Homo sapiens: one gene and its partners. The protein of the gene in region 1 purifies or fractionates together with the protein of each later gene. This does not show direct contact. Each region holds a gene or a part of one and is shown on either strand. Other genes may lie near its edges. The genes, in order: ATXN2L, DDX6, LSM12 and G3BP2.

What was found.
Region 2: the proteins of ATXN2L (region 1) and DDX6 purify together in Homo sapiens (affinity purification with mass spectrometry; 6 studies listed by BioGRID and IntAct, with this or other methods). This does not show direct contact.
Region 3: the proteins of ATXN2L (region 1) and LSM12 purify together in Homo sapiens (affinity purification with mass spectrometry; 4 studies listed by BioGRID and IntAct, with this or other methods). This does not show direct contact.
Region 4: the proteins of ATXN2L (region 1) and G3BP2 purify together in Homo sapiens (affinity purification with mass spectrometry; 6 studies listed by BioGRID and IntAct, with this or other methods). This does not show direct contact.

The regions. Positions count from the first base shown.
Region 1 is NC_000016.10:28,832,999-28,837,764, reverse strand, and holds the end of ATXN2L (ataxin-2-like protein), read right to left. Parts: intron 4,707-4,766; coding exon 4,411-4,706; intron 4,327-4,410; coding exon 4,257-4,326; intron 3,701-4,256; coding exon 3,554-3,700; intron 3,423-3,553; coding exon 3,350-3,422; intron 3,260-3,349; coding exon 3,072-3,259; intron 2,708-3,071; coding exon 2,578-2,707; intron 2,488-2,577; coding exon 2,366-2,487; intron 2,220-2,365; coding exon of another isoform or gene 2,217-2,219; coding exon 2,007-2,216; intron 1,833-2,006; coding exon 1,500-1,832; 3' UTR 1,440-1,499; coding exon of another isoform or gene 1,285-1,439; 3' UTR 1,038-1,284; coding exon of another isoform or gene 965-1,037; 3' UTR 533-964; downstream 1-532. UniProt on the Homo sapiens protein: Involved in the regulation of stress granule and P-body formation.
Region 2 is NC_000011.10:118,760,146-118,767,177, forward strand, and holds part of DDX6 (probable ATP-dependent RNA helicase DDX6), read right to left. Parts: intron 5,211-7,032; coding exon 5,064-5,210; intron 3,162-5,063; coding exon 3,067-3,161; intron 1-3,066.
Region 3 is NC_000017.11:44,063,650-44,070,575, forward strand, and holds the start of LSM12 (protein LSM12), read right to left. Parts: upstream 3,023-6,926; 5' UTR 2,939-3,022; coding exon 2,815-2,938; intron 286-2,814; coding exon 152-285; intron 1-151. UniProt on the Homo sapiens protein: Nicotinic acid adenine dinucleotide phosphate (NAADP) binding protein. Confers NAADP sensitivity to the two pore channel complex (TPCs) by acting as TPC accessory protein necessary for NAADP-evoked Ca(2+) release.
Region 4 is NC_000004.12:75,663,405-75,670,436, forward strand, and holds part of G3BP2 (ras GTPase-activating protein-binding protein 2), read right to left. Parts: intron 1-7,032.

The DNA of each region.
Region 1 (4,766 bases):
TCCCGATCTGGCTCCCCATCATCCTAGATTTCAAAAACTGGCCACCATTGGTGTGCAATGGAGTGATCTCAGCTCACTGCAACCTCCGCTTCCTGGGTTTAAGTGATTCTCCTGCCTCAGCCTCCCAGGTAGCTGGGATTACAGGCATGTCCCACCACGCCAGGCTAATTTTTGTATTTTTAGTAGAGACAGGGTTTCACCCGAGTTCAAGTGATTCTCCTGCCTCAGCCTCCCAAGTAGCTGGAATTACAGGCATGTCCCACCACATCTGGCTAATTTTTGTATTTTTAGTACAGATGGGGTTTCACCAAGTTGGCCAGGATGGTCTCCATCTCTTGACCTGGTGATCTGCCCACCTCAGCCTCCCAAAGTGCTGGGATTACAGGCGTGAGCCACCATGGCTGGCCACTGGACACGATTTTTACATGGAGGTGAAGGAACAGGTCACAATGCAGCACCTATCAATGCCACAAAAGACTGACAGCTGTCACCCCACTCTAGTCTCCAAGGAGGAAACTCCAGGCAGGTTAAGTTAGTTTAAAATTTTATTTTTTTTATTTATTTTTTAATATTTTTATGTAATAAAAAGTAAAAGTCCTTGTCCAGCCATCCTCGTGGGGCATCTGTCTGTCTCTCACACAGGTCACTCAAGTTAATGGGAAAGAAAGAACAGGGGGCCCAAGTCTGAAGTTATAAATAATAGAAAATAAAAGATCTTCCGTCTCCAGCGGGGGAATAGATGAGAGGATGGGAGGGCAAGACTGGGTGGGGACGGGCAGGGGCAGAGCAGGAACCCCCCACCCCTGCTGGACCCTGGCCCTGCCCTCTGTGAGGCCCCTCCCATTCAAGGTGCTTGGCAGGAATTCCCCAGCTCCCCTGGGGAACGGGGGGATGGGGGGCTGGGAGTGGTCCGAGCTGCTGGGGGAAGAGACATAGATCACTCTTCCCTCCACTCATGGAGGTCTCAGGTCGCGGCCAGGACAATCTTCAGTTCCCCGGGGGGTGGAAGGGGAGCTGCTGGGAGGGATGAGATTGAACTGGTTGGAGGGGAAAGAGAAGAGAGCAGGAGCATTAGAACCCAAGCAGCTGTCCCTTCCTCCAATGCCGTCCAGTGGGGGCGTGGGGGTGTGTCTGGGAAGGAGCGGCCTCCTCAAGGTGTCTCGGGGGCTGTCAGAAGCACAGGTCAATCGCTGTTTCCCAGTAAGCCAGAGCCCTCACTCATGTGCCCAGCTCAGCCCCCCACACCCCAGTCTGGCCCTGTCTGCTGCACTGACCTTACCTCGGCTAAGTCAGGAGACAGTCGGGGTCACTGAGAGCTGGGGAGGCAGTGGGGAGGGGGGCTGCTGGATCACAACTGAGCGAGGACGGAGGGAAGCAAAGGACAGAGCCAGGAGCAAGCCCCTGGCGGCGGCGACTGTGGCTTCTGCCCACCCTACATACTTCACAGACAGGTGCAGGTCGGCGGGCGCCCTGTGGGACAGCCCTGCCTCCAAGACCCCTCACTCCCCACCCAGAACCCGTGCATCCTGCCCCACCTGCAGCCCCTCAGCTCTTCCATGCCAAATTCCCCCAGCTAATGAGAACTCACGAATCCTGTCATCGGCTCCTCCTGGAAATCCAGGCGCCTGGCCAGGCTGCTCACCTTGGGGGTGTCCGATGTAGGGGTAGGGTGAGGGTGTGGAAGCTGAGAGTGCAGGCACCCCACTCTGGGGCACCGCGCCTTGGGGGGGCCCCCCATGACTCTGGGGTGGGTGCAGCAGCATCACCTGGGGCGGGTGGGGAGCCCCAGGGTGAGGGGGCGGGGCTGCTGTGATTCCAGTTTGGACATGGGCCTGTGGAAAACAAAAAAGTAGCCGGGAAGACCACAGAATCCTGAAACAGACTCTGAGAGCCAGAGTTAGGGAGCACTATGGCAAGGGTGGCACCAGGGACTTGGCAATGGGATGGTCCCCATGGCAGACGGGCCCTGGCAAACAGACCCAGAAGTGGGACAGCTGGGCTCTTACCTGGGTAACATGGGCCATGTTGGTGAAGCCGTGGGGCAGCTGCTGGTGGTGGATGGCATACACAGCGGCTGGCTGGGGGAAGCTGCTCTGAGGGGACTGGGCAGAAGGTCCCGGTGGCAGAGAGGGCGGCGTGCCTGTCAGGGCCCCTGGGTGGTACAGATTCTGCTGTGGCTGTCCACTGCCCAAGTGTGGGGCCTGCCCCGCCTGATGCTGCTGGGGAGGGGAAGGTTGAGTGCCACACAGGCCAGCAACTCGCTGGCCCCCAGTCCTCGCCACTCAGAAATGACCCCTAGCTCTATCCCTTCTTCTGGCCACCCATTCCTGCACCAGGACCACTCAGCACCCCCCATGGCAGGCACCTGGACAGGACTGGGGGCCGCATGCTGGGACTGCGGCTGGCTTCCAGTAGGCGTGGTAGCCGGCTGCGGCTGGTGGGCATGGAGCTGTGTGGCATGGTGTGGGTAGGACTGGTGAACAGTGGCTGCAGCAGGAAAGAGGGAGAACCAGTGCTGAGCACACCAGAGGGGGCTGGCACACAGCCCAGAGCAGAGGGACCAGGCGCAGGACTCACCATAAAGGGCTTGGGGGGTAGGCTGCTCTGCAGAAGGGTACTGAGGGGTAGAGGATGACACGATGGCCTGGGGATGGCTGCCCGACGTCAGCATGCGTGGGTTGCTCTGAAGCATGGGGGCAAACACCGGCTGGCGGGACAGAGAGAGGAGTGGTTGGCACAGCCGCCAGCTGGGAAGGTGTCCTCCTGCCAGTCACTGCGTGCACAGCACCGCTTGGGCCTCCTCACAATCACCCTATTGATTCAACATTCATAACGATCCCACCCAGCAGACACTATTTTCTCTACACTTCAGAGATACAGATGTCCAATGCCTTGTTACAGGTACCACCAGAGCCAGGGCTCAAGCCCAAGTCTGACACCGCCAATACCACAGAGGGCCGATCCCACCTACAACACTGCCTGCCACCCCTAGCCAGCTCCCAAGTCTCTGGAGAAGATGGGATCCCTAGCAGGGGCCCTGGATCCTCACTGCCCTCCTGGGCCGCAGTCACCTGTGAGGGGTAGTGGGCCATGGGCTGCATCATGGCTGGCTGGCCTGGGAACTGCTGAGGGTTGTAGGGGATGTAGGAAGAATAGGGCGTGGCAGCCACCAGAGGCGGGCCAGCAGCCGCGGCGGCCTGCATCATCGGCGGGGCTGAGGCTGGCTGGTGTTGGTCCGAGCGCTGCGGAGGAAGGGAGCCTGGAAGAGGAGGAGGAGAGGAGAGCTCAAGCTCCACCTGCCAGTAGGCCCTTGGCAGCCTCGCCGCCTGCCCCTCCCAGCCCTGCTCACCTTTTGCTCCCCGGTACTTGCCCTGCTGCCCAGGCACTGAATTGGATACAGGATATGGATACATCTGAGGTGCCTGGGGATGAGGACACAGATGAGGCTGAATGACTCGCTCACGAATGCCCAGACAGGCCTGACCTGGTCCCTCAACCAGCGCAACCAAATCCCACCCCGCTAACCCTGGGCCCGGCCAGTCTCTCTGCATACCTGCACAGCTGGTCCCATGTGGATCTGAGGTATGTAGGAGATGTACTGGGGGCTGTATAGCCCACTCTGGCCTGCTGTCAGCACCGGGATGGAGGGAGTTGAATGAGTCCGGGGCCCCGGAGAAGTTGGGGTACTGGTGGATTTATTCTGCAAAAACAAGGGAGGACAATTTTATTTTGTATTTTCCCCTCTACTCCTGGCCATGCCTAGAGTGGTAATAATTAACATTCGTGAAATGCTGCATACCAAACATATTCTGCACTTATCTTGATAAAGCCTCACATTAAACCCTATGAGGAGATGAGTATTCTAAAGTTACAGGTGAGGCAGAGAATGTAAGTGACGTCCAAGATCACAAACCTTCCAAATACAGGGGCTCAAGCCAAGTCAGCTGGCCTCTGTTCATGACTACCCCACTCCAATACTCCCTCAGCCAAATGCCAAGAACCAAAGAAAAGCCTGTTAACCCCTCATCAGACTCACTGGGATCCCTGATCCCCTGATCACCCAAACCTAGAGACCTGAGTCCATTTTCCCCAAGCCAGCCCCAAAGGTGCCATCCTTACATTTTTATGACATCTCCTCACACTGCCTGCCAGGCAAGTGGTCCTGGAAGTGAAGTGTTCCTCCCCCTATTCATCTATAAGCACTGCCCAAGTCTCCCCACAGAAACCAAAGTCCACATTCTCCTGTCCCAGCTCACCACAGACAGCAGAGGCTTTGTAGGATTGAACTCCTTAGCATTAGGGTTCAACGTTGATTTCTTTACTTGTCTGTGAGAGAAAGTACAGTAAATCTTCACGGCTTGCTCTCATCCCTCCTGCCATCCTCCCAGAGCCCCACCCCGCTCCACTCACTCAGCAACAGGGCCCTCATCTTTGTCTTCTCCCTTGATGAGGCCCACCGGGGGGCTGCCAGTTTGGCTTGGACAAGGTGGTGGGGGCTGCTCTGGCCCCTCAGTGCCTCCTGATGGTGCCAGGGGTGGTTTGTCCTCCTTATCCGATACGGACTCTGTCTTGGAGGAGACGGGAGACCCCATGGGCTCTGAAGTCAACAGACCATCAACCTCTTTCTCCTTTCCTTTGGGCTCCTCCTTTAAGATCCGGGGAGGAAAAGGATCCAGGCTGTTCTCAGGGGAGCTACTGGGCTGAAGCTGGAAGAGAGAAACACACACAGTCCAGTCTGACCCAGACCCTAGTCCTGGCTTTCTTCT
Region 2 (7,032 bases), on another chromosome or scaffold:
CATGAAATGTTCCTGGTGGAAAACAATAAATTCTCTCCAACACTGCAGAGAGTCAAATATGCAGAAGGGGGCAAAATCTATAATCCCCATCTTCTAGGGGAAAAAAAAAATTCTACACTACACAGACAACCTCCCCCGCTTTCTGTAACAGAATTTAATTAATTTATTTATTTTTAGAGACAGCATTTCACTCTGTCACCCAGCTGGAGTGCAGTGGCATAATCGTATCTCACTGCAGCCTGAACTTCCTGGGCTCAAGTGATCCTCTTGCCTGAGCCTACTGAGTAGCTAGGACTACAGGCACATACCTCCATGCCCAGCTCCACAACAGAATTTTAATGTGATGATTCTCATTAAAGAGGTAGTATGGTGTAGTGTTTAAAAGTACGGGTTCTGGCCGGGCGCGGTGGCTCACGCCTGTAATCCCAGCACTTTGGGAGGCCGAGGCGGGAGAATCACGAGGTCAAGAGTTTGAGACCAGCCTGACCAACATGGTGAAACCCCATCTCTACTAAAAATACAAAAATTAGCTGGACGTGGTGGTACGCACCTATAATCCCAGGTACTCGGGAGGCTGGGGCAGGAGAATCGCTTGAACTTGGGAGGCGGACGCTGCAGTGAGCCAAGATCACACCACTGCACTCCAGCCTAGGCGACAGGGCGAGACTACTCCGTCTCAAAAAAAAAAAAAAAAAAAAAGTAAGGGTTCTGAGGCCGGGTGCAGTGGCTCACGCCTGTAATCCCAGCACTTTGGGAGGACCAGGCGGGCGGATCACCTGAGGTCAGGAGTTCAAGACAAGACTGGTTGATATGGTGAAACCCTGTCTCTACTAAAAATACAAAAATTAGCTGTGCACAGTGGCAAGCGCCTGTAATTCCAACTACTCAGGAGGCTGAGGCAGAAGAACTGCTTGAACCTGGGAGATGGAGGTTGCAGTTGAGCTGAGATCGCACCACTGCACTCCAGCCTGGGCAACAGAGCAAGACTCTGTCTCAAAAAAAAGTACAGGTTCTGGAGCTAAACTGCCAGGTTGAAATCTTGCCTCCTTCATTTCTCAGCTGTGTGGGAATGTTACAGAACTACTCTGTACTTCAGTTTCCACAACTCTAAAATTGTAAAACTATTAAAATTTGGATGTTTACATAATGTAGTAACTACTTTACCGGGATTTAGAAAAAACTTGGCTAAGGCCAGGTGTGGTGGCTCACGCCTGTAATCCCAGCACTCTGGGAGGCTTAGGTGGGCAGATCACTTGAGGTCGGGAGTTTGAGACCAGCCTGACCAACATGGAGAAACCCTGTCTCTGCTAAAAGTACAAAATTAGCCCGGCATGGTGGCACATGCCTGTAATCCCAGCTACTCGGGAGGGCTGAGGCAGGAGAATCGCTTGAACTTGGGAGGTGGAGGTTGCGGTGAGCTGAGATCGCACCACTGCACTCCAAGCGGGGCAACGAGACTCTGTCTCAAAAACAAAACAAAACAAAACAAAAAAGAAAAAACTTGACTTTCAAGTTATCCAGCCACTCCTCTTCTTAAAAATTAAACCTAAACTCTGGCATCTATAAGACAAAAAGCTGAATTCCTATGAATGCCTATCTATTGCATCTGAAGTATAAAACGTATTTTATAAGCAAATTAGAAGTTGGATGTCTACATACTATAGTAACTACTTGACAGGATACCTACCTTATAGGTTTCTTGTAAAAATTAAATGGAAAAAAAAAAAAAAAAACAAACCATGTAAAGCACTTAGTGCTGGTACCCAGTGATTAATAAATGTTCTCTCTCATTACTTAAAGATAAAAGTCTGATTTGAATTAAATCATGTTACCTAAAACACAAACCAGGCCGGGCGTGGTGGCTCATGCCTGTAATCCCAGCAATTTGGGAGGCTGAGGCAGTAGGATCACCTGAGGTCAGGAGTTCGAGACTAGCCTGGCCAACATTGCAAAACCGCGCCTCTACTAAAAATACAAGAATTAGCTGAGCGTGGGTGGTACATAATTGTAATCTCAGCTACTCAGAAGGCTGAGGCATAAGAATCACTTGAAGCGGGGAGGCAGAGGTTGTAGTGAGCCGAGATCACGCCACTGCACTCCAGTCTGGGTGACAGAGTGAGTCTGTCTCAAAAAAAAAAAAATAATAATAATAATAATAAACCTCAACCCAAATGTGAAAATAACCTCATGTCAAAACATTAACAACGCTGATCACTATAGATCCTCCTTGACTTACAATGGGATTATGTTCTGATAAATTCATCCTAAGTTGAAAATATTACCCAAACCTACTGAACATCATCGCTCAGCCTAGCCTCCTTTAAACATGCTCCACTTACCTTAGCTTACAGTTGGGCAAAATCACCTGCAACGCCGTATACTGTAGAGTATCGGCTGTCTGCCCTCAATCATCATGTGGCTGACTGGGAGCTGCAGTTTGCTGCTGATGCCCAGCATCATGGGAGTATCATATAGCATATTACTAACCAGGAAAAATATCAATCTTAAAAATTCAAAGTACAGTTTCTAATGAAAGCTTATCACTTCCACTGAAAAACTGTAAAGTGAACCATCTTAAGTCAGGGACCATCTGTACATGTACAAAACATGGCTAGATCCCAGGACTACAGATTTTAATAAGTTTTTAAAAGGCATTTATAACATGGTGAGATAATACATGTAACAGAGATTAAAAACCAAACAGTACAAAGTAGTATGCACAAAATGAGAAGAGACAATATATATTATATGCTTTTAAAAATTAATCACAGAGCAGAAAGAGACTTAGAATAAATTTGGCATTGAGGTTATTCACTCCTCTACTAAAAAATTAAAACCTAATGTCTGCTATCTCTAAGAAAAAGACAAAATGCTGAATTCCAATGAATGCCTATAATCTACTCCCTCTGACGGGTAAAACACATTTTATAAGCAAATTAATTTAAACTGATTGTTTATGTGTTTATTAGATCATAAACACAAGCAGCTTTTGCTTCATTCACTGGCAGTTATAAGCAAAGCACAGAAAAGTACAGAACAGTATAATGCCAAATGAAGAGACATTACCTCATCCAATACTATCATCTGGACATGATCAACCTTTGCTACTCCTTTCTTAATAAGATCCAGGATTCTCCCAGGGGTAGCAATCACCACGTGCACTATGCAAGATTTAGAAAACATACATTCTCATTAATTTTAATTTGAGCAAAGAGGATAAAGGTTTATAATATTACAGTCCTGAGCTGCTTAATGATAATTCTGAGAAATGCATTGCTATGTGATGGTATAGCCTACTCCATTGTATAGCTCCATTATAATCTTATGGGAACACCGACATACGTGCAGCCGTCACTGACCACAACATTGTATGCAGCACATGACTATCTTTTATTAGAAACAACTAGGCCGGGTGCAGTAGCTCATCCCTGTAATCCCAGTACTTTGGGAGGCCGAGGTGGGTGGATCACATGAGGTCAGGAGTTCGAGACCAGCCTGGCCAACACGGTGAAACCCTGTCTCTACTAAAAATACAAAAATTAGCTGGGTGTGGTGGTGGGAGCCTGTAATCCCAGCTACTCAGGAGGCTGAGGTAGGAGAATCGCTTGAACCCAGGAGGCAGACGTTGCAGTGAGCCGAGATCACACCACTGCACTCTAGCCAGAGCAACAGAGTAAGACTGTGTCTCAAATTAAAAAAAAAAAAAAAAAGAAAGAAAGAGAAGAAACACATTGTGTTATAGAGGTGGAAATAACACAAAAAGGCACAAAGATGTGTTTTAGGATAAAGACTTCCATTTCACCACAGGATGCTTAAAAAATATTTGTTTCACCTCTACATTGGGTGGGGTACAGCTTCCTAAATCACCTGCTGCTTTCAACAGTAGGCATACTTTCTTGTCTTAGGATAATTCTCAATTAATAGCAGAAGGCACACCAGACTTCTGACATAAGAGCAATGCCTCTAATCTAGAGCAGTGAGCCGAGTATTGTTAAAAGGATCAAACAAGATAATTTTTTAAAAACCTATGCAATACAAAGAATGTATCACATAATTATCATATATAATATTCTAACTAAAATCAAGATATAATTTTATATGAGTGATCTCATTCTTGCTGTTTTGTTACCTTTTTCCACTCGGCAATGTATCATGAAACCTCTTCATGAAAATGAATACAGGTCAACTTTACTCTTTAATGACTATGTAGAATCCTATTCAGATTATACCTTAACGTATTTAGTTAGCCAATCTCCTTCTAAGTTGGCCAATTTTTCGGCACGACAATACCACCCCATAGCAAACAACTTTGTACCTACAGCCCTGCATTTACCCAACTTTTTTCTTCAGGAAAGATTCTTAAAAATATACATTTATGGCCGGGCACGGTGGCTCACGCCTGTAATCCCAGCACTTTGGGAGGCTGAGGCAGGTGGATCACGAGGTCAGGAGATCGAGACCATCCTGGCTAATACGGTGAAACCCCGTCTCTACTAAAAACACAAAAATTTAGCCTGGCGTGGTAGCGGGAGCCTGTAATCCCAGCTATTCAGGAGACTGAGACAGGAGAATGGCCTGAACCTGGGAGGCGGAGATTGCAGTGAGTCAAGATTGCGCCTCTGCACTCCAGCCTGGGCAACAGAGCAAGACTCCATCTCCAAAAAAAAAAAAAATATACACACACACACACACATTATATATACATTTATAATTTTAAAATATACTCCCAAATTGCCCATGATAGAGATGTAAGTTTACACCCCCACATTTACAATGTAGCCTATTTGTCCACAAACTCACATTATCGTCTACTAATACTTTTAGCTTTACCAATTAAACAGGTAAAATTATTATAAACTTGCTGTTTTACAATTACTAATAAAGTCAAATATCGTTTTCAATTATGGTAATTTGTCTTTTTCGCTTGAATGCAGTGGTCATTTCCTTTTCTTACTGCAGTATTTCTGTTCCTTAATTCTTAAAAACAATTTTTAATAATTTACTGAAATACTTGTGACTAAAATAACAGAGAGCTACACTACCTTTTAGTAATCATTTCTTACCTGTATCATCAAGCCTCATTATGTCATCTCGTAAATTGGTTCCTCCTGTGGTTGCCATCACTTTGGCCCCTCCCATGTGTTTGCTGACCTGGATGCAAATTTGACTGACCTGTAGAGCAAGTTCTCTAGTGGGAACAATCACCATTGCTGAAACAGTATCAAGGAATATATAAGAAAATATGGGGTGAGGTGGGAGAACATGCTATACATCATTATTTACAAAATTTAAGAAGCTATAGAAATACTGCGCCTTATGATGCAGTGGCTCACACCTGTAACTGCACCTTATGATGCAGTGGCTCACGCCTGTAATCCCAGCACTCTGGGAGGCCAAGGTGGGCAGATCACCTGAGGTCAGGAGTTCGAGAGCAGCCTGACCAACATGGTGAAACCCCATCTGTACTAAAAATACAAAAATTATCCAGGCGTGGTGGCACGCACCTGTAGTCCCACCTACTCAGGAGGCTGAGGCAGGAGAATCACTTGAACCCGGAGGCAGAGGCTGCAGTGAGGCAAGATCGCGCCACTGCACTCCAGCCTGGGCGACAGAGTGAGACTCAGTCTCAAAAGAAAGAAAGAAAAAAAAAATAGCCTAGGCACGGTGGCTCACACCTACCTATAAGCCCAGCACTTTGGGAGGCCAAGGTGGGTGGATCACCTGAGGCCGGGAGTTTGAGACCAGCCTGACCCTATCTCTACTAAAAATACAAAATTAGCTGGGCGTGGGTGGCACATGCCTGTAATCCCAGCTACTTGGGAGGCTGAGGCAGAAGAATCGCTTGAACCCGAGAGGCAGAGATTGTGGTGAGCCGAGATTGTGCCACTGCACTCCAGTCCAGGCAACAAGAGCGAAACTCCGTCTCAAATAAAAAAAAAGAAAAGAAACACTGCCCCTTATAATCTAGATACCGAGATGTATTAAAAAATTGGGCTGGGCAGCACAGTGAGTAACTCATGCCTAGAATCCCAGCACTTTTGGAGGCTGAGGCAGGAGGATCGTTTGAGCTCAGGAGTTTAAGACCAGCCTGGGCAACATAGCAAGACCCCATCTCTACTAAAAAAAAAAATGAAAAAAATTAGCTGGGAATGGTGGCATGTGCCTATAGTCTCAGCTTCTGGGGAGGCTGAGGCAGGAGGATCACATCAGCCTGGGAGATTAAGACTGCATTAAGCTATGATCATGACACCACACTCCAGAATGGGTGACACAGCAAGACTCTGTCTCCCCCGCCAAAAAAATTAAGAAATAAAAATAAAAAGTTGAATCATTACACAGGACATTATGAAAACTCAAATGTACAAATCTCTTTATGAAAAGAGAACCTATTATAGTGTCCCAGATTTAGACTCTCCCTCAGCAATACTATTATATAAATATTAAACTCTTCCTCTTCTTTTTTTTGAGATGGAGTCTTGCTCTGTTGTCCAGGCTGAAGTGCAGTGGCTGCCATCTCGGCCCACTGCAACCTCTGCCTCCCAGGTTCAAGCAATTCTCCTGCCTCAGCCTACTGAGTAACCGCCACCACACCCAGCTAATTTTTTGTATTTTTAGTAGAGACGGGGATTCATCATGTTGGCCCAGCTGGTCTCAAACCCCTGACCTCAAGCAATCCTCCTGCCTTGGCCTCCCAAAGTGCTGGGATTACAGGTGTGAGTCACTGCACCTGGCCTTCTGCTGCTGCTGCTTCTTCGTTTTGAGACAGATCTCGCTCTGTTACCCAGGCTGGAGTGCAGTGACATGATCTTGGCTGACTGCAACCTCCACCTCCCAGGTTCAAGCAATTCTCCTGCCTCAGCCTCCTTGAGTAGCTGGGACTACAGGCACATGTCACCACACCCAGCTAATTTTTGTATTTTTAGTAGAGACAGGGTTTTACCATGTTAGCGAGGCTGGTCTTGAACTCCTGACCTCAGGTGATCTGCCTTGCCTCGGCCTCCCGAAGTGCTGGGATTACAGGCGTGAGCCACC
Region 3 (6,926 bases), on another chromosome or scaffold:
ACTAAACCTACATTTTTTAAAAAGATATCAGAACAAACAATTTTAAGTCAATTTTAAAAAATAAAAAATAGACAACAATGTATCACTAAGACTCAATGAGACTCATCTTTCCCACCATTTTAGAGAGCCAGATCTGCCCTTGAGTCCTTACCTTACTAACATTGAGTGAAGCTAGGGGAGGAGGGGTTTCTGTTCGGTCATTAATTATTTCCACTTCTGAAACATACTGTAAGTTTATGAGCAAGATGTCTGCATGGTTGGGCTTTCCACTGGAAGAGGGACATTCTGGTGAGAAAAAAAAAAGTTAAGGAAAAATAGGACAAGCAGAGGCACTGACACATCCCAAAAGGGGCATAGAAAACACGATTCACACAAGGCTTGTAAAAGGCAGGCCAGGAGCATGAGGGCCTTATAAGAATCACGGTTCTCCTCAGGAAATCTCTGCCTGTCACCTTCCTCCTGCCCAAATCCTTGGAAGCTTCCAAAGGAGTTCTGTCACTTTCTCTCTACTGGCTTTATGGAGAGGCATAATGCAGATTTAATGCGTTTGTCTTGAACCTATGAGCCAGACAAAAGAGCTAGACCTTTCTGTTCTTCGTATAATACTCTCTGTGTCTGCACAGTATTCTTTTTACTCTTTCAGATGTGAGCTTTCCCATTTTGCAGAGGAGAAAACTACACACTGGAAAGGAAATTCACCCAAGGTGACCCAGCCAGTTAATCCATTCATTCATTCACAAACTCATTCTCCAACCATTTAAGAGCCTACTGTATGTCAAGTAAAAGTTGAGTAATTCAGCCAGGCTCACGTGATGGCTCACGCCTGTAATCTCAACACTTTGGGAGGCTGAGGCGGGCAGATTACTTGAGGTCAGGAGTTCAAGACCAGCCTGGCCAAAGTGGCAAAACCCCGTCACTACCAAAAAAAAAAAAATTAGCCGGGTGTGGTGGCACATGCCTGTAATCCCAGCTACTCTGGAGCCTGAGGCAGGAGAATCACTTGAACACGGGAGGCGGAGGTTGCAGTGAGCCGAGATGGTGCCACTGCACTCCAGCCTAGGTGACAGAGCGAGACTCCGTCTCAAAAAAAAAAAAAAAAAAGTAATTCCTAGTTACAAGACCCTTCCAACTAAACCACTAATGTAAAAGGTCTTATTTCTTCCAGGTGTAACCTCTTATTTTTTTAAAAAAGCAACTATTCTTAGGCCGCGCGGTGGCTCACGCTGGTAATCCCAGCACTCTGGGAGGCCGAGGCGGGTGGATCACGAGGTCAGGAGATCGAGACCATCTTGGCTAACACGGTGAAACCCCGTCTCTACTAAAAATACAAAAAATTAGCCGGGCACGGTGGCGTATGCCTGCAATCCCAGCTACTCGGGAGGCTGAGGCAGAAGAATCGCTTGAATCCGGGAGACGGAAGTTGCAGTAAGCCGAAATCACGCCATTGCACTCCAGCCTGGGCAATAAGAGTGAAACTCCGTCTCAAAAAACACAACAAAAAAAAAAGCCGGGCGGTGGCTCAGGCCTGTAATCCCAGCACTTTGGGAGGCTGAAGCCAGCGGATCACGAGGTCAGAAGTTCGAGACCATCCTGGCCAACATGGTGATACCCCATCTCTGTTAAAAAAAAACATATACAAAAATTAGCTGGGCGTGGTGGCGCGTGCCCGTAATCCCAGCTACTCCGGAGGCTGAGGCAGGAGAATCGCTCGAACCAGGGAGTCGGAGGTTGCAGTGAGCCGAGATTGCGCCACCGCACTCCATCCTAGCGACAGAGCGAGACTCCATCTTAAAAAAAAAAAAAAAAAAAAGATGCCATAAAAAATTACTCCTCCAAAAAAAAATTCCAATAAACCCACCTGTGGCTCACATAAAAAGGGAAGCCGTGGCACATTTATCCCAACAAGGAAGTGTTTCATTTCCAAGACTGAGTTTCCTGGAGTAATTCAGAAGTCACTTCCACCCCAAAGAAGCAGGCCACCTTTTCCAATCAGTTTAACATTGCTACTTTCAAAAGGGAGGCTGCTACTACGTAAAAGGACTCCATGTGCTGGACTGATCAAGGCAGCATGAGAACTTCACTCTTTCACCTGTAACTCACACATCCCCAAACCACATAAGCCCCTGGCAAGCCCTCTCTGGAACAGGTTTCCAGTGCAAACATCCCCTAAACAGCAACTTCCAAATGACCGAGAAGCCTAAAAATCAGCACAGCCCCCCCACCACACATACACACGCATCAGCGAAACAAGCCACTATCCCTAGCTCAGATACAAACTCTGCCCTGAACTTACTCTCCCCCAAAACAGGCAAGGACCAATTTGGTCACCATCCCACCGCCCTTCCTTGGACGAAATCCCATCAGTGCACATGCCCTCCTAAATTCCATACCTTTGCCCTACCAGCAGTTCCTTACCCTAAACACCCCTCCCCATAATATTTCACCCGCCCCTCCTTTCCATCCGGGCTCCAATCCATCAGCCCCCTCCCACCACCACCCCCTCTCCTAATTACTGTGTCCCCTCTCATAACGTTCCCCCCAAAAAGCCATCCCCGTGTCAAGCCCTCCTCCACCCACTGATCCTCGGTAAAGCCCCAGCTCCCGCAAAGAGAGAGAGACAGGATCCCCAAAGCTGACCGAAGGGCCCGCGGGAGGGGGAGGGGAGCTCAGGGCCGTGCGCATGCGCCCCGGGCGCCGCGGTAGCCGGTCGCCCCTAGGCCCGGAGAGAGCCCCAGCCGCCGCCGTCGTCCCCCACCCCCCGACCACCGCACCTACACGCCGGCCCGGACTCGGGCTTCACGCAGGGAAGGATACTTAAAGCCAGCATTTTGGATTGGTAGTCAAAGGCTACCACCTCGCCCTGCAGCCGCTGCTCCTGGCACGTCCGGCACGACACCTGGCTCCCAACGCTGAAGTACTCGCCCGGAGGAGCCGCCATCTTGGGAGTGCAGCCGCGGCCGGCGGCGGCGGCGGCAGCAGCGGGCGAAAGCCGGGCCCCCAGTGAGCGCCGCGACGCGACGGCGCGCACGGAGCGTGCTTGCGTCACACGCCGGGGCGTGGCCTGGCGCTGGTTGGGGCGGGATCCTAGGTGGAGTGGGAAAGAAGAGGAAATAAAGGGGAATCTGAAAAGTATTTGTATAGCTGCGTCCGCTCGGTTAAGTGCTTGTAGAGTCCATTTTAGAAGTTAAGGATAAATGACCTACGTGGAATGAAAAGGGGAAAGAGGAGGGAGCTGCAGTCTCCATTATATGCACACCTTCCACACAAGAGTTTAATGAATGAATTTTATAAAATATGTTAACCCCATTTTGCATATGAGGAATCAGAGCCTCAGAGGACTTAACGATACTTGGACAAGATGATTATAAGGCTGGGAGCGGTGGCTCACGCCTGTAATCCCAGCACTTTGGGAGGCCGAGGCGGGTGGATCACCTGAGGTCAGGGGTTCGAGACCAGCCTGGCCAACATGGTGAAACCCCGTCTCTACTAAAAATACAAAAATTAGCCGGGTACGGTGGCGCGTGCCTGTAATCCCAGCTACTAGGGGGACTGAGGCTGGAGGATCTCTTGAACCTGGAAGGCGGAGGTTGCACTGAGCCAAGATTGTGCCACTGCACTCTAGCCTGGGCAACAGAGCGAGACTCTGTCTCAAAACAAACAAACAAACAAAAAAAGATGATTATAACTACTGAGTGATAGTGGAAAGAACATTGGCTGTGGAGTTAGATAAGCTGGAACCAGAATCCGAGGTCAGCCTCTTACTAAATCACCTGACCTTGAGCAAGCAAATTACCTGATCCTGTTTCTTCATAGGCATTTGTATTGTCACTTCTTGAGCATCTAACAGCCCTTTGAGGTAGGAATCAATGTCCTCCTTTTACATAAACTAAGTTTTAGACTAAACTTGTCCACGGTTCCACAACTAGCAAAAACAGTCTGCCTATTTCCAAGGACGGTGCTATTTACTGCTATACTCTGTTACATAATAATACCTACCTCATAGTTAGGAGGTTTAAATGCGGTAACGGGTATAAGTGCATGGCATGTACTAGGTCTTTAATAAATGGTAGTTCCCCCTTAGTCACCCATCACTCTTAGAAGTCAAGACACTTCCCCTTCTCCCTTTTTGCCCTCTCTCCCAGAAAGCCAGGCAAAAGGCAGGAATGAGGAGCAGCGGATAGTGACAAAAAGGGGCTTGGAGGAGGGGTTTTGCGCCCCTGCCCTTGAATGTCCGTCTGATGTACAAAACAGTCGTTTTCTTAATCTTATGCAAAGGACTATGAGCGTGCATTTTCAAGCCCTACTACCACCAATGGCTGTCGCTAACCCACCCACCGCTCACTATAGAAATTTTGGATCCTCGCTTCATGTATAAGAAACAGGTTGACCTTTCTCTAGTCCAGAGGGAAGCAAAGGGCCAGTCTTGGCGCGGCTTAACCTGAACAAAGTTCAAAAGTATTTCCTTGCCCTCCAAGAAACATAAACTTCCTGGTGTTGGAAGTATTGATACACTCATTATAATAGGAATAAAAATTCTGCTCCTTCATAGTGTGCTTTTTCAGAGAACTTTTTTTTTTTTTTTTTTGAGATAGAGCCTCGCTCTGTCACCCAGACTGGAGTGCAGTGGCGCCATCTTGGCTCACTGCAACCCGCACCTCCCAGGTTCAAGCGATTCTCCTGCCTCAGCTTCCGGAGTAGCTGGAATTACAGGCACGAGCCACCATGCCCGGCTAATTTTTGTACTTTTAGTACAGATGGGGTTTCACCATGTTGGCCAGGCTGGTCTCAAACTCCTGGGCTCAAGCAATCTTCCCGCCTCGGCTGGCCTCTCAAAGTGCTGGGATTACGGGCGTGAGCCATGTGGCCGGCCTCAGAGAACTTTCATGCCTCTCATCCTTGTTCTGGCCCCCATAATAAATCATACATAATTGCCATTCCAGTTTTCCACTTTTTATATGGAATCGTGATTATAGGTTTTCATATAAGACTTCTAGGAGCCATTAGGAAAGGCCTTCTTGGAGGAAGTGAAAAATCTCTACTGAGACCTGAAGGATTGGCAAGGAAAAAGAGTGGCCATGTTCCAGGCAGAGGGAACTGCACGGGCCAGGACCCCTAAGAGGAGAGAACTTGGTGATTTCAAGGAATGTATAGGTCAGAAATATTACAAAGCGGAGTGTGGGAGTAGGCTGCTTAAGGTTGAGGGCAAACCTCAAAGACTCGGTAAACAATGTAGGCTTTCTCTTCGGCAATTAAAAACTTCCTGGTATTGTCCGGGCACAGTGGCTCACGCCTGTAATCCCAGCACTTTGGGAGACCGAGGCGGGCGGATCACGAGGTCATGAGATCAAGACCATCCTGGCTAACATGGTGAAACCCCGTCTCTACTAAAAATACTAAAAATTAGCCAGGTGTGGTGGTGGGTGCCTGTAGTGCCAGCTACTTGGGAGGCTGAGGCAGGAGAATGGCGTGAACCCAGGAGGCAGAGGTTGCAGTGAGCTGAGATCGCGCCACTGCACTCCATCCTGGGGGACAGAGCGAGACTCCGTCTCAAAAAAAAAAAAACTTCCTGGTGTTGGAGGTATTGGTATAATCATTGTAATAGGAATAAAAATTCTGTTCACTACAAAGGCAATAAACGAAGATTTATATCCAGCTTCCCTCCTTTACACCTTTTTTTTTTTTTGGAGACGGAATTTCTGTCTTGTTGCCCAAGCTGGAATGCAATGGCACAATCTTGGCTCACCACAGCCTCCACGTCCTGGGCTCAAGCGATTCACCTCTCTCAGCCTCCTGAGTAGCTGGGATTACAGGCATGTGCCACCACACCCAGCTAATTTTGTGTTTTTAGTAGAGACACGGTTTGGTTTCTCCACGTTGGTCAGACTAGTCTCCAACTCCTGACCTCAGGTGATCCACCCACCCTGGCCTTCCAAAGTGCTGGGATTACAGGGGTGAGCCACTGTGCCCAGCACCTTTTTTATTTTTTATTTTTTTTTATTTTTTGAGATAGAGTCTCGCCCTGTCGCCCAGGCTGGAGTGCAGTGGTCCCATCTCGGCTCACCGCAACCTCCGCCTCCCGGGTTCAAGCGATTCTCCTGCTTCAGCCTCCCTAGTAGCTGAGACTACAGGCGCGTGCCCCCACGCCCAGCTAATTTTTGTATTTTTAGTAGAGATGGGGTTTAACTATGTTGGCCAGGCTGGTCTGGAACTCCTGACCTTGTGATCCGACCGCCTCGGCCTCCCAAAGTGCTGGGATTACAGGTGTGAGTCGCCGCGCCCGGCAAAAAAAAAAAAAAAAAAAAAACTTTTCAAGAACAAAGTTGATTGAGGTAGGAAGAAACTAAGGAGACACTGTTCAACAGTATTCTAGGCAGGACCTCGCCTAGAATAGCTGAGATTTCTATTTTCTATGTGAGTTCCCCCAGATGACTGTTTCAAACTCTGTCGCGGGTGTGTGCCAATCCTCTTCCCATACCAACACTGTTACTATCTCTTGGTTTCATCTGCCTAAGCAGGGTTTTGGATGGCAGGAGGATGGGGGTGGGGGAAGCAAGGGAAGAACTGGAAGGAAGTGTGACTTTGCGCTATATGTGAGAATTCGCCTTTTTAGGGAAGACCCCTCAAAATCAAGAGACTTATCTGTCAGCCTCCAGATTAATAGCAGGCGAATTAGAAAGGGGGAGTCTTGAGGCTGGGGAGGAAGGAGTGAACTGATTAGGGGTGTATGCAAATTTAGGATCCCGCTTCAGCTCCCAGGAGGAGGGGCTGTCTGCAGCCTTTTCTCCAAAGGATCTCAGATTTATTTATTTTTTTGCTGTTTGTTTTTTTTTTTTTTTTTTTGGTGGGTATTGGTGCTGGAGAAGAGAGGTCCGGTGGGGAAAGAATCCCGGCCCTGGAGATTATATATCCGCCTTCGCATCAGCGGA
Region 4 (7,032 bases), on another chromosome or scaffold:
CTATAAGCATGCACCTGGCTAATTTTTTTAAATTTTTTAATTTTTATTTTTAGCAGAGACGAGGTCTGGCTACAATGCCCTGACTGGTCTCGAACTCCTGGCCTCAAGTGATCCTCTCACTTCAGGTGTGAGCCACAAACAAAACTTATCATTTACTGTAGGAATATAATCCCCAGGGCCAGGTACGGTGGCTCACACCTGTAATCCCAGCACTTTGGGAGGCAAGGCGGGTGGATCACAAGGGCAGGAGTTCAAGACCAGCCTGGCCAAGATGGTGAAACCCCATCTCTACTAAAAATAAAAAAATTAGCCAGGTGTGGTGGTGGGTGCCTGTAATCCCAGCCACTCCGGAGGCTGAGGCAGAGAATTGCTTGAACCCGGGAGGCGGAGGTTGCAGTGAACCAAGATCGCGCCAGTGCACTCCAGCCTGGGCGACAGAGCGAGACTCGTCTCAAAAAAATAAAAAATAAAAATATGAAATATAACCTATTTTATTTTTGAGATGGAGTCTTGCTCTGTTGCCCAGGCTGGAGTCCAGTGGTACGATCTTGGCTCACTGCAACCTCTGCCTCCCGGCAGAGCAATTCTCTTGCCTCAGCCTCCCGAGTAGCTGGGACTACAGGCACGTGTCACCACACCTGGCTAATTTTTGTATTATTAGTAGAGACGGGGTTTCACCATGTTAGCCAGACTGGTCTTGAACTCCTGACCTCGTGATCCACCTGCCTCAGCCTCCCAAAGTGCTGGGATTACAGGCGTGAGCCACCGTGCCCAGCCACCTGTTTTATTTTAAAAAGACCTATTAAACTTAAAAGTACTAAAAAAAAAAAATCATAATTCCTAAGCATGTATCTACTGGGTAAATCAGGATGCAGTTGAAATTCCTGCTTAGCCAGGTGCGGTGGCTGACGCCTGTAATCCCAGCACTTCAGGAGGCCAAGGTGGGCAGATCGCCTGAGGTCAGGAGTTCGAGACCAGCCTGGCCAAAATGGTAAAACCCCTTCTCTAGTAAAATACAAAAATTTGCCAGGCGTGGTGGCTGGCGCCTGTAGTCCCAGCTACTTGGGAAGCTGAGGCAGGAGAATCGCTTGATCCCAGGAGGCAGAGTTTGTAGTGGGCCAAGATCATGCCTCTGCACTGCAGCCTGGGCAACAACAGAGTGAGGCTCCATCTCAATAAATAAATAAAGTCCTGCTTAAACTTCAGGTTGAGCTGGGAGGATCATTTGAGATCAGGAGTTCGAGACCAGCCTGACCAAGATGGTGAAACCCCATCTCTACTAAAAATACAAATAATTAGCAGAGCTGATGGCACACACCTGTAATCTCAGCTACTCAGGAGACTGAGGCACAAAAAATCACTTTAACCTGGGGGACAAAGGTTGCAGTGAGCCGCGATCACACCACTGCACTCCAGCCTGGGCAACTGAGTAAGACTCTGTCTCAAAACAAACAGACAAAAAAACACTGCAGGCTGGCACAGTGGATCATGCCTGTAATCCCAGCACTTTGGGAGGTGGAGGTGGCAGGAAAGCTTGAGGCCAGGAGTTCAAGACCAGCCTGGCCAACAGAGAGACCCCATCTCTATACAAAAAATTAAAAATAAAAAGTCAATTTCCATGTGTGTTTACTTTAAATAACTAAAACAATTTCAGAGACAGCCCTGCATAGGTCATTAAAATTGTGATGCTGTTTTTAATAAAAATCAAATACCAACTATAGTAGAGCTTACAGATAGAGTGTAGCTTTACATAATTCTAGTGACTCACAATTCAACTTCTACATTATGTTTTTAGGTTCCTTGTTTCTTCCTTTCCAACAAACTATCCCTCCTCTAACTGTCCTTCTTAAACTCTCAAACTTGATTTACAAAAATCCCCAAATCTGTTTAAAATTTTTTATAATGCCTCACTTGCTTTCAAAAATAGTTAATTCACAAAGAGCAGATCCAAATACTGCCATTTCAGGTGTCATTGATTTTCCAGAAAACTTAAAACTCCCAATAAGGGTAACAACCCTAGTGCAAAAAGGACTCACATATGCTACATTTAAAGTAACAAAGCACTGGGCTGTGGCTCACGCCTGTAATCCCAGCACTTTGGGACGTCGAAGTGGGCAGACTGCTTGAGCTTAGGAGCTGAAGACCAGCCTGGGCAACAAGGCAAAACCCCATCTAAAATTAGCCAGACATGGTGGTGCACACCTGTAGTCACAAACACACAAACACACACACACACACAAACACACAAACAAACACACACACACACACACACACACACACAGCTAAGCAACTAACATTTTTATTTTGAATAATGAGGGTGGGTAAAGAACAGTAGACTTACCTGGTAAAATTTAACAAGATAACTAAAACATGGAAATTATATGTATTTTAACACCATAAAAACTGATGGTAAAATAATACTAACACATGGGAAAATACTACATTACTCTCTGAACAAAATAACTATACACAAAATAGTTTTCTTTAAATTGATAGTGACAGAAATACTATTAGGAATTTCCGGGTTTGGGAATTGTTTTCTTCTCTCTGGATTTCCAGATTTTCTACAGGAACACTGTTGTCATTTATCCCAAATTTCCCATCATATTCATAGAGTACATACTGATCTATCATTTTTGTCACTTACATATTTGTTTCTCAAACCAAAATAAAATGGTACATAATACATATATAATATCACAGGTCAAAATGCTCTAAAGATTTGTTGTAACAAGGTTCAAAAAAAGCTTCAAATTGCCCACTATCTACATGGTCACTGAAGTATAATGGCCAACATACCATCAATTTAGAACAGAGAGACAGGGAAGGGCAGTAGAAGTAATATTTGATTAATCAATACTCAATAAATTAATACTTAGAACTATTGGAAGGCAGTAACTTGAAAAGTTAACTTCAAATGGTAAATAAGTAAGGCAATGCTAATCTGGTAAAATCTAAACAGGCATATAACAGGTTATATAGAAAGCTGAGCTTTTAAGGTGCAGAGGAGGCTCCCAAAGGAATGGTAAAACAAAATCAAGATTTACTGAGAGAACAGTGTTTCAACTAATTACATCAGTTACTTCTTTAACCATAACTCCGATTTGAAGTGACTCAGAATTTAGAGAGCCAAAATATAATTGATAGAAATCAACCAGAAAATGACTACTAGAGATCAACCATCAAACAACGTGGTTTGGGTATTGCAGGAAATAAGACTATGAAAATTGAGTAAGTAATATAAAGTTCGTATTTATAATTCATGCAGTGTACGTAAGAAGGTTGAGAAAAAGGAAAAAAGCCAAATTACACTTTCAGAATAAAAGTGATTACAAGAAGAAAGAATTGTGCCATTTTTATTATTCATAGCAAATCATCTTACAGGTAATCCATTTCTAGATCTGGGACCTTCCATTTCTTAAAAAAAGTTAACAAAACGAAACAAAATTCTGAATATGGGAGTAAAAGGTTTCAACTATCTTATCCATGGCCATGAAAAACTCATGACCTTACTGGATCTCGATTTCCTAGTTTACAAATTGAGAAGAAATCCCCGGTCAAGCCTACAAGACTATACAGTTCTACAAAGATAGCCAAGAAGGCCTGGTGCAGTGGCTCACACCTGTAATCCCAATATTTTGGGAGGCCAAAGTGGGTGAATCGCTTGAGCTCAGGTGTTTGAGACCAGCCCAGGCAACATGGCAAAACCCCGTCTCTACTAAAAAATACAAAAAATTAGCGGGGCGTGGTAGTGTGCAAGCGTAGCTCCAGCTACTCGGGAAGCTGAGGTGGGAGGAATGCCTGAGCCCGGGAAGTCAAGGCTGCAGCGAGCCAAGATGGCACCACCGCACTCAAACCTGGGTAACAGGAGTGAGACACTGTTTAAAAAAAAAAAAAAAAAGATAGCCAAGATTAAAGGATACTTATACACAAAAAGAAATCTTTAGAAAGTTCTTAGATTAGCACCTTCAAAGATAACTACCATCTTCAATAAGGTGGTTGTTAGCCTCACCTAACAACCTTTTTAGAAAAAGTTAAATACAATATATCACACTCCACTTCTTCCAATGACACCTGAAAATGTGAAGAATCTCACACAGGAATGCACAGTGTAAAATTTTATCTGATACATTAGCTCTATACACAGTCAAAGCTCTCTCATGAACAAATCCGTCTTTTACTTGTCAAATGAAAACATTATCCAAGGCCAGGCGCAGTGGCTCATGCCTACTTCCCAGCACTTTGGGAGGCAATGGCAGGAGGATCACAAGGTCAGGAGATCGAGACCATCCTGGCTAACACAGTGAAAGCCCGTCTCTACTAAAAATACAAAAAATTAGCCAGGCCTGGTGGTACGCGCCTATAGTCCCAGCTACTCAGGAGGCTAAGGCAGCAGAATTGCTTGAACTCAGAGGCAAAGGTTGCAGTAAGCTGAGATCACACCCTTGCACTTCAGCCTGGGCAACAAGAGCGAAACTCTGTCTCAAAAAACAAAAAACCGAAAACATTATCCAGTATAGTTTAGAGGCTTTTTACTCTCCAACTCTGCCTATCGCACCTAAAATCCCAGTGAATCTTCATCAGAATATTTTATTCATTCCTGTTTCTTAAAATGTTTCCTCTGCATTTGCCTAATTCCTGAAGCACATGCACTTCAGCTCTCACGGAAAATTGCTCTATATTTGTCACCATATTTTCTGAATCTATTAATTATACACATTGAGAGAGAGTGGAGTATTGGTAGATAATACACACTGAGAGGGAGTGGAGCATTGGTAGACATACATGCAGATTAGAAAAGAAAGTCACATTGAGCTTCATTATCCTACAATGAACTTATATTTCCTCAGTTTCAAAATAACGTAAAAACCAAAGTTATCACTCTCCTTTCCTCAAACTTTGACTAAAACGTCACCTTTTAGGTAAGAAACATTTAGGTTTTTTGTTTACCATTTAAAGTTCAGTGAATCACTACTATAATGGGGCTGCCTCCAAAACAATCAATCTTAGGCTACATTAATTTAGATGTAATATCTAAAATGAGTTGATTGCTAATTGAATATAGTGAATGGAAATTATAAGAAGGTAGATTTGGGTGAAACATAACACAAGAATAACGCGAGTTGTCCAAATATCAAATAGAGCTACTTAACAAGTAGCCAGTCACTACAGGTATTCCAGAGACTAACTGAATGGTTTGGCACAAACATAGTAGAGTCCATACATCCAAAAAAGTAAGATTAGGCCATTCCAACACTAAGATCCTAAAAGTCTGTTAACAAGAAGCAGGACTTTTGACTTCTCCTCCAATACTCATCTCACACCTTCCTATCTGCAATGATTGAAACCCTATGCATTTATCTGGGCCCAGCAGAAATCCTGTCCCCTTGAAAATCTTTCTACTCCTACTGAATTCCTCAACAGAATATAACTCTTCTCTATTAACTCTTAAAGCACTTTTGGCCTTTATCATAGCAGTTTATTGATCATGCTCTGCCCTAAATTACTAACTGTACACCTGTCTTCATCTTCTATTCCCCTCTCAAATATTATAACTCAGCTCTCCTTTGAATGCAATTCTCTGGAAACATCACAATTCTTCTCAATAATCGAATGACTTCTCAATCCTCCACCCATCTGCATTATCAATGTTGACTACCTCCTCCTAACTCTTCTAGAGTTCTATAAGGCAAATTTTCCTTCTCATCCAAACGCAGAATTTCTCAAGGTTCTGTCTTCTAACCTGGCAATTTCAGCTTCTGGTCTCATGTCTACCTAAACGTGTATCTAGTCTATACCATAAGTTCAAATTTTACATTTGTCACCACATACTGAACACCTAGACATGACCCACATATGTCCCAATACACGCATGCACCAAAGAAAGCTATTTCCTTATTTCTGTTAAAAGTGTCATAATCTTCTCAACTTGAAAGCTCAGTCGTGACTTTCTCCCCTTTAGCTTTGCCACTTAAACTGTGAAATCCTTACAATTCAGAAGGTGGAATTTGTGCCCTCCTTTTCACTCCCACTGTTCAGACCTTTTATTCTTCAAAAGTCTTTCAAGCCCCTGTATCACGTGTAGTATATACTGTACTGAGTAAAATCCAAACACCTGCATTCAGTTTGGCATCTAAGGCCCTACACAGAAATCCAGTCTGACATTCAATGTCATAACCAACCTTTCAAATTTATCTCCTACTATACTTTCTCATCCCTGTATCAAATTCTATACAAATATTTTAATCACCTAATATTATTCTCTGCAATTTCACTCTCTGCGCCTTTGTCTTACTTCATTCATTCCCATCCACAAGCTGAGTCAATGGGTTATACAAAATAAATTCATTTCAACATTTATTTTATGGCTACTATGTATGTACCAGAAACTACAAAAGGAAAAAGAGGCCGGGTGCAGTGGCTCACGCCTGTAATTCTAGCACTTCGGGAGGCCGAGATGGGTGGATCACCTGAGGTCAGGAGTTCGAGACCAGCCTGACCAACATGGCAAAACCCATCTCTACTAAAAACACAAAAAAGTTAGCCGTGTGCAGTGGCGGGCGCCTGTAATCCCAGCTACTCAGGAGGCTGAAGCAGGAGAATCGCTTGAACCCGGGGGCGGAGGTTGCAGTGAGCTGAGTTGTAAGTACTTGGTATTAGTTATTATAAAAAGAATAAGACCTCTAGTAATAGGAGGCAGTTCTCTTTACCAGATACTGTTACCAAAGGTTATGTGGGTGCTAAGACACAGCTTATCTCCACTATAGGATACTTACCCCTTTCCCCTCTGGAGTCCCTCACTCATAGCTGGGCTCAAACTAGTCAGGTTTATTTATTTTAATTGAACCATGGACTATATCCATTTCCAACAGCTAAATGCATATTAATACTGGAACTTTCTGAAATTCCAGATGGTTTTTGTTTGAAGTAACTTAAACAATCTAAGGAACACTATACCTTTTTAAAGAAATGACCTTCAATCTTTTGTGGTACACCATTGAATGAAAGCTTCACAAAGAAGATCTAAGAATC